2 separate regions of the Homo sapiens genome follow, and region 2 is linked to region 1. The links come from fine-mapping of genetic effects on gene expression. A gene starts in region 1. The other region holds a variant in brackets. All regions are shown on one strand. Distances are between the middles of the regions.

Region 1 (9,854 bases):
CATACTGCCCGAAGTAATTTATAAATTCAATGCTATTCCCATCAAGCTACCATTGACTTTCTTTGCAGAATAGAAAAAAACTACTTTAAATTTTATGTGGAACCAAAAAAGAGCCCGCGTAGCCAAAACAATCCTAAGCAAAAAGAACAAAGCTGGAGGCATCCTGCTACCTGGCTTCAAACTATATTTAGATTTATTAGCATGAATTTAAAATATCTATAACTAAAAATACTTTTGAAAACCTATTATAAATGGATGTATGTTTTCTTCTATTTTTAAGCTTCTTTTTATTTTTATTCATTAGTCTTGCTAGAATTTTGAATGTATTAATGGCCTTTTAAACAAAACAGCAGTTTACTGTTTCATCATTTTCATTGCTTACTATGTTTTCTAATTTATTAATTTATCCTCTTACTTTTCACGGTTTTATTTCTACTCTTTTTGGGGGTTGGTTTTGCTACTTTTTCCTTTGGCTTCTTGGCTGAAATAACGAACTAATGTTAGCAGAGTGGCTGAGAAAATGGATTCTGGAGTTGAGTGATTGATTGCATCAGTGACCCAATTATCCATCTGTCTGTGTCCACCCTTTGTCTGGTAATTTTGGAGTTTTTGTCATCAAGGCAGGCTAGTACTTGGGCCAAGAGAAGAAGGGAGGTGTGATGTCGCACCAGTTCTGAACCTCAGCCTCCCGAGACCTTGAGTGTATCTGCTTGTTTTTTTGTTTCTTCCATTGCTGTGAGAGCAGACCTGGCCTAGCCTACTGCGGAATGAAACCAAGCTGAGTCCTCTCAGTCATCCAGTTGAGAGTGCTAGCCAGTCCCCTCCCAGAGATACCATCAAGCCTATCCAAGATCAGCAGTTTCTTAGGAACCACTGCAGACACCACACTACAAATGCTTATTGCTGTGTGTTGTTATTTGGGTTTATTTCCTTTTTGCTATGTAACATAAATGTGGCAATAGACCATACATATGTTACTTAGGATTACCTCTTTAGCATTCACTATATTGAAGTTTCTTTGTTTTTAGTGACTTTTTATTTTTGATTTCTAACAATTATATTGTGACCAAAGAAATGACTTCTCAGTAAGATACTGCTTCTTTAAAATTCCTTAAGACTTCCTCGCTGGTGCAGCATATTTTAATATTTGAAAGTGTTCCACGTGCACCTAACATACCTGTAACTCACCATTTAGGTGAAGTGTTTTGTACGTATCTATTCAATCTTTTTCATTGTGTTCTTCAAATCTTCAGCATCCTTTCTAATGTTATATTTCCTAGATCAATCATTTCATAATAGAGTTCAATTAAAAATTTCCACTCTAATAATAGGTTTGGCAATTTCTTATTATATCTCTGTTAGTTTTCAGCAAGTGCATTTAAAGCATAGGTAGCTAGGTGCATAAAACATTGCTTTTTTATGTTTCAGTAATAGGTTGCTTCTATTTCTGATAATATGGAGACACTAGGTTTCTGTAGGTTAATATTTGCCTAATGTATCTGTTTCTATCTCTTTGTTGTTAACCTTTTGCTGCATTTTTAAATATTTGGTTACTATATAAAAAACTATCAATGCATTATGTTTAGAAATCTAAACTGATAGATAACTATATTTTAAGAGATGCATTAAACCATGTATGAATTTTTGTTTTGGATGATCTCTCATTCTATCTTATTCTCACGTTAAACCTACTTTTCTTTTGCTTCTAGTTTTGTCTACATCTTTACCTTCTATTGAATTGAAAATGTTTTCCTCTCCTTCTTCACTTCTTCTCCTGTCCCAAAGATGTAAAAGGTGGTTATATGTCTTTTATGGTTACTCTTAAATACTTTTCTAAGAAACTATAACTTATTTTATGAAAACTCAAAAGTATTTATTATCTCTGTTCTCTTTTTACAAACAAATGCCTTCTAGTTATTTTAACACTCTGCTGAATTCCAATCTAATTATCCTGGTTATTTATTTATTTATTTATTTTTGAGATGGAGTCTCGCTCTGTCGCCCAGGCTGGAGTGCAGTGGTGCGATCTCGGCTCACTGCAAGCTCCGCCTCCTGGGTTCATGCCATTCTCCTGCCTCAGCCTCCCGAGTAGCTGGGATTACAAGCGCCCGCCACCACGCCCAGCTAATTTTTTGTGTTTTTAGTAGAGATGGGGTTTCACCTTGTTAGCTCGGATGGTCTCGATCTCCTGACCTTGTGATCCGCCTGTTGTTGTGTAGAAATGTGATTCAATTTTCAATTTAAAGAACATACAAAGTAGATTCATTTTTTACCATCAAATGTCTATTAACTTTGCCAATGAATTATGCATTTCTGTAGCGAGGCTTTGATATACTTGGGCTTGTGCAGGAGGTGGAGTGTAGAAATTCCTCCTGTACAGGGCTTGCATTGGCGGCAGCTGCTTTAAGAACCCAGAAACTTTTGTCCTCTCTGTAGGCTAGCTCACTGTGAAAATATCCCATGGATTTTACCTAAAATTGCTTACAGAGAGTGGCATTATACTTCTATAGATAACTGCATCAGTAACCAGAGAGGAGAAGTACAGCAGTAGACTACCCTCTACCCCCTGGTAGGAGTAGTAGCACATCACAGTTTCAGCATGTTCAATCTTGAGCAAAGAACATGATGTGATTGTTTCTGGGTATGTCTGTATATGGGGGGTGATTTTGTAGGGGAATTTATACATACAGTTTATTGCAGCAGGCACATAAAATACTTCCCAGAAGAAGATAATTCAGTGCATAATAAGAGCACCACATCTTTCCAGAACTTCAATCAACCACTGCTACACAAATAGGATTTGCTAAGCCACTCCTGAAAACTGTAGGACTAGAGTGCTTTCAAATGGTCTTTGCCGTGGGAGAAAACAGGCTACCTAAGCTGAATTATAGAAAGTAAAGAGATTCTGGAAGGTACCATCATCAGTTTTCTGGGAAGCATGTGAAGGACATGACTTGGAAGAATGGGTCCAGACTTTTGAGCACAAAGCCAGCAGCTCCACCCTGAAGACCATCATTTGGCTCATAAGTCCTGACTTCTGAAGCAAGTGATCTCCCTCCGTATGCATGCCATGTTGGCCATGCAGTTTCTATGAACTCCTCCATAGTGATGAGAAGTGAATGAGCCCCAACTGAAGCCATCATCTCATTTATGGGACAGGATCACACACAGGGTGGTGCTACTTTCTAGAGCCAAATCTCAAGTAAGGTGTCCAGGGGTCAGTTGCAACAGAAGGCACATTAGCCACAGCAGTCTCAGAGAACACTGCTAGAAGAAGAACCTACACATGGCCATGCAATGAGGCTGAGGGGCAGGCCTAAGTGGAAGCAGACCAAGTAAAGAGGTCAGAGAGCCCATGGAAGGAGAAGAGGGAAAGACAGTTCCAAGAGTAAAGCAGCCTAGGTTAAGGTGCAGAAAATTCAGCATGGATACTTTTAAGAGAGCTGTGCAAGGCTCTCCTTACCTAAAATCACACTCCGTATACAGACATACCCACAAACAATCACATCATGTTCTTTGCTCAAGATTGAACTTGCTGAAACTGTGATGTGCTACTACTCCTACCGGGGGTAGAGGGTAGTCTGCTGCTGTACTTCTCCTCTCTGGTTACTGATGCAATTATCTATAGAAGTATAATGCCGCTCTCTGTAAGCAATTTTAGGTAAAATCCATGGGATATTTTCACAGTGAGCTAGCCTACAGAGAGGGCAAAAGTTTCTGGGTTCTTAAAGCAGCTGCCGCCAATGCAAGCTCTGTACAGGAGGAATTTCTTTTTTTTTTTTCGTTTTATTATTATACTTTAAGTTTTAGGGTACATGTACACATTGTGCAGGTTAGTTACATATGTATACATGTGCCACGCTGGTGCGCTGCACCCACTAACTCGTCATCTAGCATTAGGTATATCTCCCAATGCTATCCCTCCCCCCTCCCCCCACCCCACAACAGTCCCCAGAGTGTGATGTTTCCCTACACTCCACCTCATGCACAAGCCCAAATATATCACAGCTTCTCTACAGAAATGCATAATTCACTGGCGAAGTTAATAGACATTGGCCAAGAGGATGATCTCCTCACTATGGAATCAGCTACAGTCTTAGGTAGCATGCAAACTCCAGTCTGACTCCAATCCCTTATATCTTCCATCGTAAAGTATTATTGCCAACTTTGTTTCTTTCCAATTTTTGTATGTTCTGCAGTTTATGTAAAGGCTAGCAAAAACATGAATACTTTATTATACATATGGCAAATAGTCTCAAATTGTAATGACTCATTTTTATCCTCTTATACTGTTGTAAAATTCAGAACAACATGTATTCACTATAGGAGTATGAAAATTCTTTTTACCAATGTACATTTTAAATAACATTGTGGTAAAGAGAAGCTACATATTTCACATTCTGATTCAACTCACTGTATCCAACGAGTAAAAGATCCTAGAAAGAATCTTACATTTCTAAAATTCTTATAGACTAAGAGTGAGCGATAGGAACAATAAAAATATTTCTGTAAGTGCTCTTGGTAAACAGTCTTAAAGTCAGAAGAACACTTATCCAAAATGCCCTACATTATTGTGCAATCAAAGTAGATAACTTTAACTTCAAAAACAACTCAGTCTTCCAACCCAATTCTTAAAACTCTAAGCTCTTCACAAAAAATTTTTAGCCAATTTAAACTTATTTCTACACTCAGTTATGTTTAAAACAACATAATGTTTGCATAATTTTTTAAAAAACATTCTAACTCAATGTTTTTATTTATCTAATATTAATTACCAGATATAAAATCTTTAAAGTAGCCCAATATTTTTCAAAATAATTTCTGCATAGATGATTGTCATTCAGTTTATAAAGGTTTATTTATAATTTTGTGATAGGAATAAGAAAAGACAAAACCTCTGAAACAAACTCACACACAAAAGCAAAATACAAAACAAAACAGAAAAAATACAGTGAACTTACTTCTGGGAAAATGGAAGCAAGGAATCTAGAGGTATGGTTTATCCACTGAGCTCCTTGTTTAGAAGAAAGTTATTCATATTTTCTCCTGGTCTCTACCATGTATCTAGAATTTGCTTTAACTATTTGACTTCTGTGAAAAGTTTCTGTGAAGACTGCTTTCAGAGTGGAGGTTATGATCTCAATTCTGTTGGCCCTGCCAAACATCACATTCACGTCATCATGCTTGGACTGTTTGTCTTCTCATTGATATTCGGCCAGTTCCTGCAGAGCAGTGGCATTTATACTGGGTTGCCTGGCTATATCATATTATAGGGAGCAATTTCTCTTTTACGTCCAAGATTATTGTGGCTAATACCAAAATTTAAAGTGCTGTCTTTAAGCCATGAGAAAGTAAACAGCTTAATCAGAGAAAAGCTCTTCTCTCTACCCAGAGCTCTAGTCTGCTTAATTGACAGCTTTACCTAGATAATCAAAATTTTCATTCCTCTGCTTCCCAGCTTCATTTTCACTCAGTTCAGACTATTTTCCAATTTATTTGACCCACGGATTAATCAGAAATGTGCTTAATTTCCAAGTGTCTGAAGATTTTCTTATCTTTTGGTTATTGATTTAATTTTAAATCAGAAGTTCAATTATACTCAGAAAAAATATTTTGTATGTCAAATTTGTTAAGGCTTATTTGATGACCCAGGATATGATCTATCTTGGCAGATATTCCATAGGCACTTGAAAAGTTGTATAGTTTTTTGGTGTTGAGTGGAATATTATATAATATCTATTACATTTAGTTGGTTGATGATATTGTTCAGTTTTTTCTATATTTTTCCTAATTTTCTGTCTCCTAGTTCTGTTGATTACTAAGAGAGGAATGTTGAAGATTTTAACAAAACTTAGGGACTTTCAAATTTCTCCCTTTAAAACTATCATGTTTTGCCTGATGTATTTTGCAACATTTGGAATTGTTATGTCTTCTTGGTGAATTGACCCTTTTATCATTATGTAATGTTAATCTTTATCTCTAGTAACTTTTGTGTTCTAAAGTCTACTTTGTTTCATATTAATAATATAGCCATTCTTACTTTCCTGTGATTATTGTTTTCGTGGTATTTTGTTTTCATCCGTTTATTTTTATCTACACACACACACACACACACACACACTATATGCTTTCAGAGTGGCAGTTATGATCTCAATTCTGTTGGCCCTGCCAAACATCACATTCATATTATATGTGTATGCGTGTGTGTGTATGTGTGTGTGTGCGTCTGTGTTTGTTATTATTTTTTTAAGATGATGGTCTTGCTATGTTGCCAAGGCTGGACTTGAACTCCTGGGTTCAAGTGATCTTCCCATCTCAGACTCCTGAGTAGCTGAAACTACAGATACATGCCACTATACCCAGCTCTAAATTGTATTTCAAGTGAGTTTCTTGTAGATGGCATATAATAGAGTCATGAGTTTGGTTTTTAAAATCCAATTTGACAATGCACATCTTTTAATGGGTGTGTTTAAATTATTTTCATTTTATGTAGCTATTGATTTTTAAAATCAGATCTGCCATTTTGTTATTTGCTTCTTTTCTCTCTGGTTTTAATTCTCCTATTTCCCATTTTCTGCTTTCTTGTTGGTTATTTGAAATTATTTTTTGGTATTGCATTTCAACGTATCTATTATGTTTCTTAACTGTATCTATTTGTATAGTTATTTTAGTGGTCACTCTCAGGATTACAAAAGACATACTTAACTTGACATGCTTTACCCAGAATTAATATTTCTTCATTTTAAGTGAAATATATAAACCTTACTATGATATACAGACAAAATAGGAAGGAGGTCAACAAGGGTGCTGCTCAGTAACTATATAACCAGAAGGGGAAGAAATAGAGGAGTAAGAGGCTCAACATGGTCTCCATCACCCCAATAAAAAGTCATGATCTCTTGCTCAGCTCCTAGTCCTAAGCTACTTTTCAGATACAGAACATATTGATTAAAAAACTAGTCAGACCCCTAGAAGAAAAGATCTTGCAACATCTTGACAAGTATATACTGTGGTGATTATACTTCCTAGTCCTCCCTCAAAGGGACCTAAAGCCATTATTTGGGTGATTATACACTGAAGAAAGAAAAATCCCCAGACATGTCAAGGGTTGTTGGGCATAAAGTCAGAGTGGACATTGATAACTGCAACCCACACTAAGGCCCTACAGCTAGATTGAGAATATAGAGCCAAGGTCGTAAATGGAGTTCCGGTTAACAAGCAGCTCTGCCTCGTCTCACTGGACTTATGGACATACCCAGTGGTGATTTTGCTGTCACCAAATGTGCTGTTAGAATTGACATATCTAGTAGTTAGAATAACTTCCATGCTGAGTCCTTGGCCTGTAGGGTAAAAACTATCATAATGCAGAAGGGAAAGTGGGCACCTTTGACAATTCTCCCAACTTTATCCCCAGCCATGACACTTAATCAAGAACAGTATTCCACATGGGGAGAAGAAATGCAGAGACCAATGCCACAAATAGTGACATAAGGATGAAAGGTAGTGGTGCCTAGCACACCTTAATTTAATTTGCCAGCCTGATCCTTGCAGAAGCCAGAAAGATTCTAGAGAATGCTTAGACTATCTCAAGCTCAAACAACTAGTGGTCCTAATTAGAGTTGCTTTGTCAGACATGGTATCTATTCCTAGAGCAGATACATGATTTTTAGCCAGCGATTAGTCAGATGCATTCTTCTCTATTCTGATTAGAAAAGAGCATCAAAAACAGTGCACAATCAGATAGATTAGGTAATATTATTTCTTTACAGTTTTCCCTCAGTGCTCTATTGACCCCCTAGCTTTTTTTATAATATAGTCTTAAGAGGTCTGGACCATGTAGACATCCACAGAATATCATATTGACACATTGATGGCATCATGCTGATCAGACAAGATGAGCAAGATGTGACTAGCATGCTGGAGGTTTTGGTAGTACACATGTTTTAGAAAGTGGGAGATAAACCCTGTGAAGATTCTGGAGGTTTTCACTTCGGCAAAGGTTTTATGGATCCAGTGGCTAGGGGTGCTTTGCCTATCTCCTTCAAAGTGAAAGAAAAATTACTGTATCTTGCAGCCTCAACCAGTAAGAAGAAAGGTCAGCATCTGTGATGTCTCTTTAGATTCTAATGGCAACACATTCAATGGCTGGTTATATATATTATATATATATATAATTATATTATATAAATATATAATATATAATATAATTATATATATAATATATATAATATATAATATAATTATATATAATATATAATATATATATAATTATATATAATATATAATATATAATATAATTATATATAATATATAATATATATATAAAATATATAATATATAATTATATATAATATATAATTATATATTATATATATTATTTATATATTATATAATTATATATTATATATATTATATATTATATATATTTATATATTATATAATTATATAATATAATATAGTATATAAAATATATATAATATTTAATATATATAATATTAAAATATTAAAATATATATTATATTATATATAATATATAATATTAAAATATATATTATATTATATATATATTATATTATATATATATTTTATAATATAATATAATATAATAATATAATATAATATAATAATATAATATTATATATTATTATTATATAATAATAATATAATATAATATAATATAATAATAATAATATAATAATATATATTATGTATACTGACTCATAAATACATACTGACTCATATATATATTATATAATTATATAATATATATTAAATTTTATATGTATATTATATATAAAGACTTTAGGTTACTGTTGAGAAGGCATGACTGGTTTTGAAATATAAGGATATGATATTTAGAAGGGGCCAGGGGCAGAATGATATGGTTTGATTTTGTCCCCACCCAAATTTCATCTTGAATTGTAGCTCCCATAATTTCCACGTGTCATGGGAGGGACCCAGTGGGAGGCAACTGAATCATGAGGAGTGGGTCTTTTCCGTGCTCTTCTCATGATAGTGAGTAAGTCTTACAAGATCTGATAGTTTTATAAAGGGGAGTTCCCCTGCACATGCTGTCTTGCTTGCCACCATGTAAGATGTGACTTTGCTCCTCATTTGTCTTCTGCCATGATTGTGAGGCTTCCCCAGCCATGTGGAACTGTGAGTCAATTAAACCTCTTTCCTTTATAAATTACCCAGTCTCAGGTATGTCTTTATTAGCAGCATGAGAGCAGACTAATACAGATACCATCTCACACCAGTCAAAATGGCCATTTTTAAAAAGCCAGTAAATAATAGATGCTGGCTAGGCTGCAGAGAAAAGGGAGTGCTTATACACTGTTGGTGGGAATGTAAATTAGTGCAGCCGCTGTGAAAAGCAGTTTGGAGATTTCTTAAATAACTTAAAAAAAGAATAACAGAATAATCATTCAACCCAGCGATGTCTTTACTAGGTATATACCCAAAGGAAAATTAATCATTTTACAAAAATGACACGTGCACTTGTATGTTCATGGCAGTGCCATTCATAATGGCAAAGACTTGGAATCAACCTAGGTGCCCATCAACAGTGGTTTGGATGAAGAAAACTTGGTATATATACACCATGGAATACTACACAGTCATAAAAAAGAATGAAATCATGTCCTTTGCAGCAACATGGATGCAGCTGGAGGCCATTATCCTAAGTGAACTAACACAAAAACAGAAAACCAAATACTGCATATTCTCACTTATAACTGGCAGCTAATCATTGAATACACATAGACATAAATGTATTTTAACACATTATTATTCCCACTTAGATTCTGTGTAATATTTAACCATTTAATTACATCAACAAATAAAAGCCTTTA
Region 2 (9,854 bases), 130 kb before region 1:
ATGAAAAAAGTGATGATGCATATTAAACAAAGTGAAGATGCTATAACTTCCATGGAAGTCTATAGAGAAAATATTTCAAGGACCCAGGGGATTTGGCATGCCAGAATGTATTTACTGTATAAAACTGGGAAACCCACTAATGTGTACATTCCTTGGGAGGGCTTAGAGGACACTTTATCAAAGCAGTAGGAATGAGCTGGTGAGGAAGGTGTCAGTATTGTTGAGAAGCCCAGTGGTGCTGTCCTTTATGGGCAGGGTTGACAGTAGGAGATGCTGTAATTGTGCCTCCCAGGAGCAATGTGGATGATAGGATTTTAGAATAGCAGAGGCCAACAGACAGCACTTAACCAATGGAAATTAGAAGGGCATAATTAGCATAATGCAAAGCAACTTGGGATGACAGTCAGGGGAACCTGATCCACAGGGATTTACGGTGATGGCTAATAGAACATGATGTCCATAAGAATGGGAAAGATGGGAACTCAGTGACAATATTATTAATATACATACCCTAAGAAATCAAGAACAGACAAGCAGAAAACAAGAAGCTGACCCAACAGGAAGTCTCCTGATCTTGCCCAGTTTCCAGACCGAAGTCATTTCTCAGTTACAGCATCTACAGACAGAGAGTCCAGAGCCCCATGAAGAAAGACTCTACCACAGTGTGTACGGTAATTCTCCCTCCGACCTTCCTTAAAGGGACCTCCAGAAATTACTCAGGTAACCACATATTAAGGAAAGGGGAAGACCCAGATCTTTTGAGGGCTTTTCAACACAGAGCCTGATTTGATGCTGGTACTTGGAAACCCCAAGAGCCATGATGCCCCCTGCTCCTGTTAGAGTAGGTGTATGTGTGAGGATCAGGTAATAACTGAAGTTCTGACTCAGGTCTGTCTTAAACTGGGTCCACTGGGGCCCTGTAGGTACCTGGAGGTCATTTCCCTGATTTCCAAATGTGTAACTGCAATGACATATGAGTTGCAGCCATATTCCTAAGTGAGGAATATACTGCTTCCAGATCTTGAAGACAATTACCAAGCACTGGGCTTTCTTTTTAGTAAATAAAGATTTAAACATGATGTTTAAAAATACTGAGAAGACCAAGTCCCAGTAAAATCCAGATCTCTAGGTCCCTGAAAAAATATGGTGATCCTTGAGTTTTACAGGGTTTATCTCCCACCCTTTGGGGTGCATATTTCTTACCAAAGCCTCCAATCTATTTGCTACCTCTTGCTCGTGTGTATGGATCACCATGATGGTGCTGATTTGGTGGATTAATGTGATGTTCTGTGGAATGTCCAACTGGTCTCATTCCCTTGTACTATGGGATGACAGAGGGTAGGGCAATTAATGCAGCCCTGGGGACAGACTTTAAGTGAACGTAATGTGCCTCTGATCCTTCTTCCAGCTAGAAATGAAAGAGAACGCAGGTTTACCAGCACACTCCTGGACAGGACACTTGGTCAGCACCAATACTTGCAATCCCTCCCTCATTCCAACCTCTAACCACTGCCTCCTATCCTGATAATATCCTGCTTTCTATTAATTACTTGACCTACAATCTATTTATGTGACTAACGTTTCACGATTTCTCTCCATTTGCATGTCATCACTTCATTCCTTGCCCAGCTTAAATGGTTTCAGCATTATATCAGTCCTTGCATATACCCTTGATATCCTTGTCTTTCTTCTAACTCTGCCTTCTGCACACCTGCTTTATGCACCAGAACATGACTCTAGAGAATCATGGAACATGTTGAAATTCTCACTTTAAATTCATAATCACTAATCCCAAGCTGGACCTTAGTGCTGCCCAGAAATCCTACCACCTTCAATTGTATTAATATTTTCACTCTCCTTATCCTCTTCCTCCAAATTTATAGCACTTTCCCCCTTCTTATTCTCCTTTTTTCACTTCACTGAGAAAAAAAAAAGCTAGCAGAAGAGAATTCTGTCATCTCCCATCCACACATCTACTCACTTACTGGATCTGGATCCTATACCAGATTCCATCCCCTTTCATTACCGCAAGATGTTATGTAAGCCTCCCTTCTCTTCTGCTTCATCATTCCAGTCTTCTTTCTTCTAGACCATTCTTTTTGTTGTTGTTGTTGTTGTTGTTGTTTTTGTTGTTGTTTTTTTTTGTTGAGACGGGGTCTCACTCTGTTGCCCAGGCTGGAGTACAGTGGTGTGATCTCGGCTCACTGCAACCTCTGCCTCCCAGGTTCAAGTGATTCTCCTGCCTCAGCCTCCTATCTGGGATTATAGGCGTGTGCCACCATGCCTGGCTAATTTTTGTATTTTTAGTAGAGACGGGGTTTCACCATGTTGGTCAACTCCTGACCTCATGATCTGCCTGCCTCAGCCTCCCAAAGTGCTGGGATTACAGGTGTTAGCCACCATGCCAGGCTAGACCATTCTTATTATCATACAGTCAAACATGCTGTAATTTCTCTCACTTTAAATAAAACTCTTTCTTGAACATGCAAATCCCTTCCAGCACCAATGCCTTTTCTCTGTGCCCCTTTACAGAAAAGAATCATTGAAATAGCTGTCTGTATTGTTTTCCTATCTTCTGTTCCCATGCTCTTTTGATCTCACTTCCAGGATTCCGCACTGCAATCCATCAACATTGCTCTTGTTAAGGTTACTGATGACCTTTCTATTATTGCTCAATCCATTCATCCATTTTCAGCGGATCAGTTAATCCATTTTCATCACCTCACTTGCTCTATCACTAGCATTTGACATAACGAAACACTGACTCTTTACTTTTGTTTCCAGGACAGGGAGGTTCAACTATTATTCCTTTCATACTCATTACATTTTGGAAAACTATATGCCCTCTCACACATTCATTTTGCTGTCATTTAATTGGTCATAGTATTTTATTTTTTTTTTTTTGAGACGGAGTCTTGCTCTGTTGCCAGGCTGGAGTGCAGTGGTGTGATCTCGGCTCACTGCAATCTCTGACTCCCTGGTTCAAGTGATTCTCTTGCCTTGGCCTCCTGAGTAGCTGGGATTACAAGCATGTGCCACCATGCCCAGCTAATTTTTGTATTTTTAGTAGAGACGGGGTTTCACCATGTTGGCCAGAATGGTCTCGATGTCCTGACCTCATGATCCTCCCACCTTGGCCTCCCAAAGTGCTGGGATTACCAGCATGAGCCACTGTGCCCGACGGGTTATAGTATTTTTTAAAACACTTCTAAATTTGAAATTATTTCGCACTCAAAGAAGAGTGGCCAAGATAGTACTGAGAATACTGATGAACATTTTCCCCAGCTTCCCCTCACGTGAACATATTATATAACCATCGTCCATTTGTCAAAACTAAAAAATTCACATTGGTACAAAACTGCACTTTATTCTGATTTCACCAGTTTTTTTCACTGATGTCCTTTTTTCTGTCCCAGGATTTAATCTAGGACCTACAATTTTGCATTTAGTCATCATGCCTCCTTAGTCTCTTCCAATGTGTGACAGTTTCTCAGTCTCCTTGTTTTTCATGACTTTGACACTTTTGAAGAATGCTACTCAGGTATTTTATAAGATACCCCTCAATTTGGGTTAATCCAAAATTTTCTTATGATTGGGCTGGTGTTATGGAGTTTGGGGAAAAGTTCTACCATAGAGGAAAATAGTGTTTCTGATTCCAGCATACACAATGTGTGTAAAGAGTGTATACAATGTTAGCATGACTTATTACTGGTGATATTAACCCTGGTCACTTGGTTAAGGCGTTTCTGCCAGATTTCTCCACTATAAAGGCAGCACTTTCTCCTGTTCACACTCTATTCATTAGGAGCAAGTTATTAAATCCTACCCTCACCCAGGAAGAAGGAATTAGACTTCCTCTCTTGAAGGGAGGAGTCTCAAGGAATTTAATCCACTGTAGTTAATTCAGACTATGGGGAGTTTCTTGGATGTTATACAAATATACTGTTTCTTCTTAAGTCTTTGGCCACTAATTTCAGCATTCATCAGTAGATCACACCTGCAATAATCATTATTCTGCTGCCTTCACGACCTTTCATACATTTTTAAGTTGACATCGAAAATTTTCTTCTTAAGTTTAAATCTTTGTATATTCGTATACTACCTGAATTTCAGCACTGTGTGTGTGTGTGTGTGTGTGTTTGTGCGTGTGTGTTTCCCTCAGAATCTTAGAGTTGCATATTTATACATATCTAATGTATGGAAAAATATCTGCCATATAATCTAACTGGCAAAACCAGTCTTCACAGTAAAAATCAACCATGCAGGGAAGCATATTTTTTCTGTCAGAAAAAAAAACTGGCTTCATTTTAATTAAGATAAACATTTTAATACACATCTCTGTCACAAACTTCTCACCTCCAAATTCTAATGCATGGAAAGACAGACAGATGTATAGCCATAGCACAAAACCTTCTCATGAATTCGTTCCCTGGATATACTAAGGTGCTGTCTTTTTCCCTTTTACTCTTTTTTTTTTTTTTTTTTTGGCATTCATCACAATGCCTTTAATTTTACTTATTTTTTTTAAATTATCTTTTGAAGTTTTTGTGAGTACATAGTAGGTATATATATTTATGGGGTATATAGTTTGTCTCTGTGTCCCCACCCAAATCTCATCTTGTATCTCCCATAACTCCTACGTGTTGTGAGAGGGATCCGATGGGAGATGATTGAATCACGGGGGCGGGGCTTTCCTGTGCTGGTCTCATGATGGTGAATGGGTCTCACGAGATCTGATGGTTTTAAAAACGGGAGTTTCTCTGCACAAGCTCTCTTTGCCAGCTGCCATCCACATAAGATGTGACTTGCTCCTCCTTGGCTTCCTCCATGATTGTGAGGCCTCCCCATGTGGAACTGTAAGTCCAATAAACCTGTTTCTTTTGTAAATTGCCCAGTCTCGGGTATGTCTTTATCAGCAGCATAAAAACGAACTAATACAGGGTACATGAGATATTTTGATACAGGCATGCAATGTGAAATAAGCACATCATGGAGAATGGGGTATCTATCCCCTCATGCATTTATCCTTTGTGTTACAAACAATCCAGTTACATTCTTTATTTTAAAATATGCAATTCAGTTATCATTGACTATAGTCGCCCTATTATGCTATCAAAGAGTAGGATTTATTCTTTTGTTTTATTATTTTTGTACCCATTAACTATCCCCATCTCCCCCTATATCCCTCCACTACTCTTCCCAGGCTGGTAACAACCTTTTTTTTTTTTGGACGAAGTCTCGCTTTGCTGCCAGGCTAGAGTGCAGAGGCGCAATCTTGGCTAACTGCAATCTCCGCCTCCCGGGTTCACGCCATTCTCCTGCCTCAGCCTCCTGAGTAGCTGGGACTACAGGCGCCTGCCACCACGCCCGGCTAATTTTCTGTATTTTTTAGTA[G/A]AGACGGGGTTTCACCGTGTTAGCCAGGATGGTCTCGATCTCCTGATCTCGTGATCCGCCCGCCTCGGCCTCCCAAAGTGCCGGGATTACAGGCGTGAGCCACTGGGCCCGGCCAATTTTTGTATTTTTAGTAGAGACGGGGTTTTACCATATTGGCCAGGATGGTCTCGAGTTCTTGACCTCGTGATCTGCCCGCCTCGGCCTCCCAACGTCCTGGGATTACAGGCCTGAGCAACCCCGCTCAGCCTGTAACCACCTTTCTACCCTCTATGTCCATGAGTTCAATTGTTTTTATTTTTAGATCCCACAAGTAAGTGAGAACATGCAATGTTTATGTTTTTGTGCCTGGCTCATTTCACTTAACATAATGATCTCCAGTTCCATCTATGTTGTTACATATGACTGGATCTCATTCTTTCTTTCTTTCTTTTTTTTTTTAATGGCGGAATAGAACTCCATTGTGTATATGTACCACATTTTCTTTATCCATTCCTCTGTTCACAGACATTTAAGTTGCTTCCAAATCTTAGCTATTGTAAACAGTGCTGCAACAAATAAGGTGTGCAGATGTCTCTTCAATATACTGATTTCCTTTGTTTTCGGTATATACCCAGCAGTAGGATTGCTGGGTTATATGGTAGCTCAATTCTTAGTTTTTTGAGGAACCTCAAAACTGTTCTCCATAGTTGTACTAATTTACATTTCTACCAAAAATGTACAAAGCTTGTCTTTTGGATATAAGTCATTTTAACTGGAATGAGATGATAGCTCATCGTAGCTCTGGTTTGCATTTCTCTGATGATCAGTGATGTTGAGCATCTTTTCATATGCCTGTTTGCCATTTGTATGTCTTCTTTCAAGAAATGTCTATCCAAATCTTTTGCCCATTTTTTGGATGGGATTATTAGATTTTTTCCTATAGAGTTGTTTGAGCTCCTTATATATTCTGGCTATTAATATCTTGTCGGAGGGGTAGTTTGCAAATATTTTCTCCCATTCTGTGGGCTCTCTTTCACTTTGTTGATTGTTTGCTTTGCTGTGCAGAAGCTTTTTAACTTGATATGATCCCATTTGTCCATGTTTGCTTTGGTTGCCTGTGCTTGTGGGGTGTTGCCAAGAAATCTTTGCCCAGCCAATGTCCTAGAGAATTTCCCCAAGATTTTCTTGTAGTAGTTTTATAGTTTGCGGTTCTAGACTTAAGTCTTTAATCCATTTTGATTTGATTTTTGTATATGGTGAGAGATGGGGGTCTGGTCTCATTGCTTTGCATACAGATATCCAGTTTTCCCAGTACCATTTATTGAAGAGACAGTCTTTTCCCCAGTGTACATTCTTGGCAACTTCGTGGGAAATGAGTTCACTGTAGGTGTGTGGATTTGTTTCTGGGTTCTCTATTCAGTTCCATTGTTACGTGTCTGTTTTTATGCCAGTCCCCTGCTGGTTTGGTTATTATAGCTCTGTAGTATAATTTGAAGTCAGGTAATGAGATTCCTCCAGTTTTGTTCTTTTTACTTAGGGATAGCTTTGGGTATTTCCTTTTACCCTTTCTTACAAAGTGTTTGTTTTTAGAAAACACACACTCAGGAATGATCAAAAGCGCTTGCTTTTTTTTTTTTTTTTAATTATTTTTCGGAGTAATGTTCCACAGTAAGATTCAGAATCAGTACCAGGAATGCCTTTCTTTTGTAAACCAGAAAAAATGCAAAAACGGAAGTGGAAAAGAAGAACTGGAAGTCCACAAATGCCTTCTCAAGCATCTTTTTAAGGAAAGTGGTCAAAAGGAGTTTGTGTATCTGGAAGTTGAGTTCTTTAAAGCTTCTTATGCTCACATATACTCTGGAAAATCTTGTGACCCCAGGGTATGTATGGCAATGCACTATATCAATAACGTGCTCTAAATTATTGGAGATCTAAACAATCCTCTTATTTGAGCAAAAATAGATGTATTTGCTTGTCTCCCAAGATATTTGACAAAAGTCATCAAGCATTCTATTATCAAAAATTATTTTAATTGATGTATCACCTGGCTATTCACCTAGTTTCTGTTATAATTTGGCTGGAAGAGAACGTGGAGAGAGGTGTGATAAGATCCTTATGGCAAGGTAATTGAAAAGTAAAGAGCACTGAAAGTCTTTGCAGATAACAGCATTCTTGGGGAGGAGCATTCCTGTACCGTTGAGATTTTGGTTGGTTCTTTTCAAATCCTCAGTTCTGCAAAAAAACATAAAAGTTACTTCTATGTGAGCCCCCAAAGGATATCACCAAGATATCTTTCCATTTAAAAAAAGTAAGATACAAATTTAATTTTAAATTTTCTTTTACCAAAAGACTATGTGATCCAACGTTCTGCAGTATTGGGTTATCATTATAATTATTATTCACAATTTCTCAAAAACATGCATATCATATAAATGTTAATATGTAAATATTAAACATTAAAATTAAATTTTATTGGAAATGTGTATCTTAATGAGGTGAATTGAAGTTTATTTTTCTTTTAGTTCACTTATTTATGAATGAATATTGCTAATTGCTGGAATAAGATAACTCTTAGAACAATATCTGTTCCTTTTTTTCATTTATATATACCTAAATATCGAGAAAACTAACTTACACAAATAAGTAAATAGGAATAGAATGTTATTGTACTGTTACTAAATTATTTATGTTTCTCCCAAGATATTTGGCAAAAGTCACAAAGCATTCTATTACTAAAAATTCTTTTAACTGATGCATCAGCTGGCAATTCAACTAGTTTATCTTATAATTTGGCTGAAAGAGAAAATTAGAAACCATTTGACTCGATGGTTTTCTAATTGTTAGCATCATTCACCTTCTCAACAGGGACACTGTCATTTTAGTAATCTCACTGTGTGTCATTCCAGATGTTTTTATACCCAGAGCCATGCTAATGGTAAGATTCATAAGGGGGTGAGGAGTGACTGCAGTTTATTAGGTGGGAGAAGAGTTGTTACAAAAGAAGCATTGGGAAGCAAGAATCTGCACGTTCATCATTGAAACATCCTCAAATCTAGTGATTTTAGCAAAGCATGCATAGGAAATTGAGGGCTTAGGAGTCTGTTTCCTTATGATTGTTTACCTCTTGGATACGTTTGATATAGCCTGCTCTAATAACTGCCTGTTGAGGGTGCCTGACTCTCCCAGTTTTCCTCCTTCCCTCCCTGATCATCCCTTTTAAATTTCTTTTGCAGGCTTTTCCTCACCCCTGAATGCTCCAACCAGTCCTCAGAAAGCTACATTCTTTCTCCTGGGGATCTCATCCATTTCCATGGCTTAACTACCACCAATAGGTTGAACTACCACCAATAGGTTGACAGCACCCAGAGATTTTTTTTTTCTATAGTGGGATCTTTTGGTGAGCACTCAATTCATATAACAAACTCTCTCCATAACGTCCCTAGTGAGATGTCTAGCAGACATCTTAAACTTAACTTGTCCTAAACCAAACTTCTAACCTGCTCCCTGATATGGTTTGGCTCCATCCTCTCCCAACTCTCATCTTGAATTGTAGCCCCCATAATTCCCATGTGTTTTGGAAGGACCCAGTGAGGGATAATTGAATCATGGGGGCGATTTTCCCCATACTGTTCTTGTGATAGTGAATCAGTCTCATGAGATCTTATGTTTTTATAAGGGGTTTCTGCTTTTGCTTGGTTCTCATTCTCCCTTGTCTGCCACCGTGTAAGACGTGCCTTTGGCCTTCCGCCATGATTTTGAGGCTTCCTCTGCCACACAGAACTGTGAGTCCCTTAACTTCTTTTTATTTATAAATCACCCAGTCTCAGGTATGTCTTTATCAGCAGCGTGAAAACGGACTGTTACATTCCCCCTCCCTAATTTTCTTCTTCCGTAGTCTTCCCCATGAAAGTTAATTTGGAGTCATTCTTTAGCTACCAGCCAATGCTGTTGGCTCTACCTTCAATTTCCAAAATTTGGTCTCCAATACTATCTCTTATGGGTTGTTCCTGATACCGCAGCCTAATGAATTCTTTAAAAACACACCAGAGAAGAGAAGAACCCTCCAGCACCGATTTTTTTTCTCTGTCTCTCAAAAAGTAAAAGACAAACTCCTTAAAATTTCCACAATCCCATACGTGGTTGGTCCCTACTTTTCTAAAGTCATTCTGGACTGTTCTGCTCACTCACTCCATTCCAACTCCACTGGCCTGCTCAGGCACGTCAGGTGGGCTCCTCCCTCCAGACCTTGCCATTGGCCATTCCTTCAACCGGGATTCTTATTATCCAACGTATTTATATGGCTTATTCCATCCCCATCCTCTTCTTCAGGTCTTTGCTCAAATGGTCAACTGTGAGGTCTTCTCCAACTCCCAATTGAGTATTGTATCCCATCCCTCCTCTACACTCCTAATTCCTCATTCTTGTATCATTTTCTCTATAGCACTTTTCATTCATGATGTTCTGCATGCTTTACTTGTTTA

Alleles and levels. Alleles are on the strand shown, and positions count from the first base shown. SD is a standard deviation of normalised expression in the study named.
In carriers of allele A in region 2, the expression in prefrontal cortex of the gene that starts at base 5,135 in region 1 tends to be higher than with G alone (large effect, 0.94 SD a copy in ROSMAP).

The links. PIP is the estimated chance that this variant, and not a neighbour inherited with it, causes the effect. A credible set is the group of variants that fine-mapping cannot tell apart.
Region 2: its variant is the best candidate, but not a certain one, in a credible set for the expression of ABCA8 in prefrontal cortex (ROSMAP, PIP 0.90).

The regions. Positions count from the first base shown.
Region 1 is chr17:68,950,258-68,960,111 of GRCh38, forward strand. It overlaps ABCA8 (ATP binding cassette subfamily A member 8), which reads right to left and starts at 5,135. Exons shown (of 40, transcript NM_001288985.2): 1 at 4,962-5,135.
Region 2 is chr17:68,822,270-68,832,123 of GRCh38, forward strand. LOC105371874 (a long non-coding RNA gene) reads left to right here and starts at 606. Exons shown (of 3, transcript XR_001752986.3): 1 at 606-720. The variant G/A (reference allele first, on the strand shown) is at 5,395.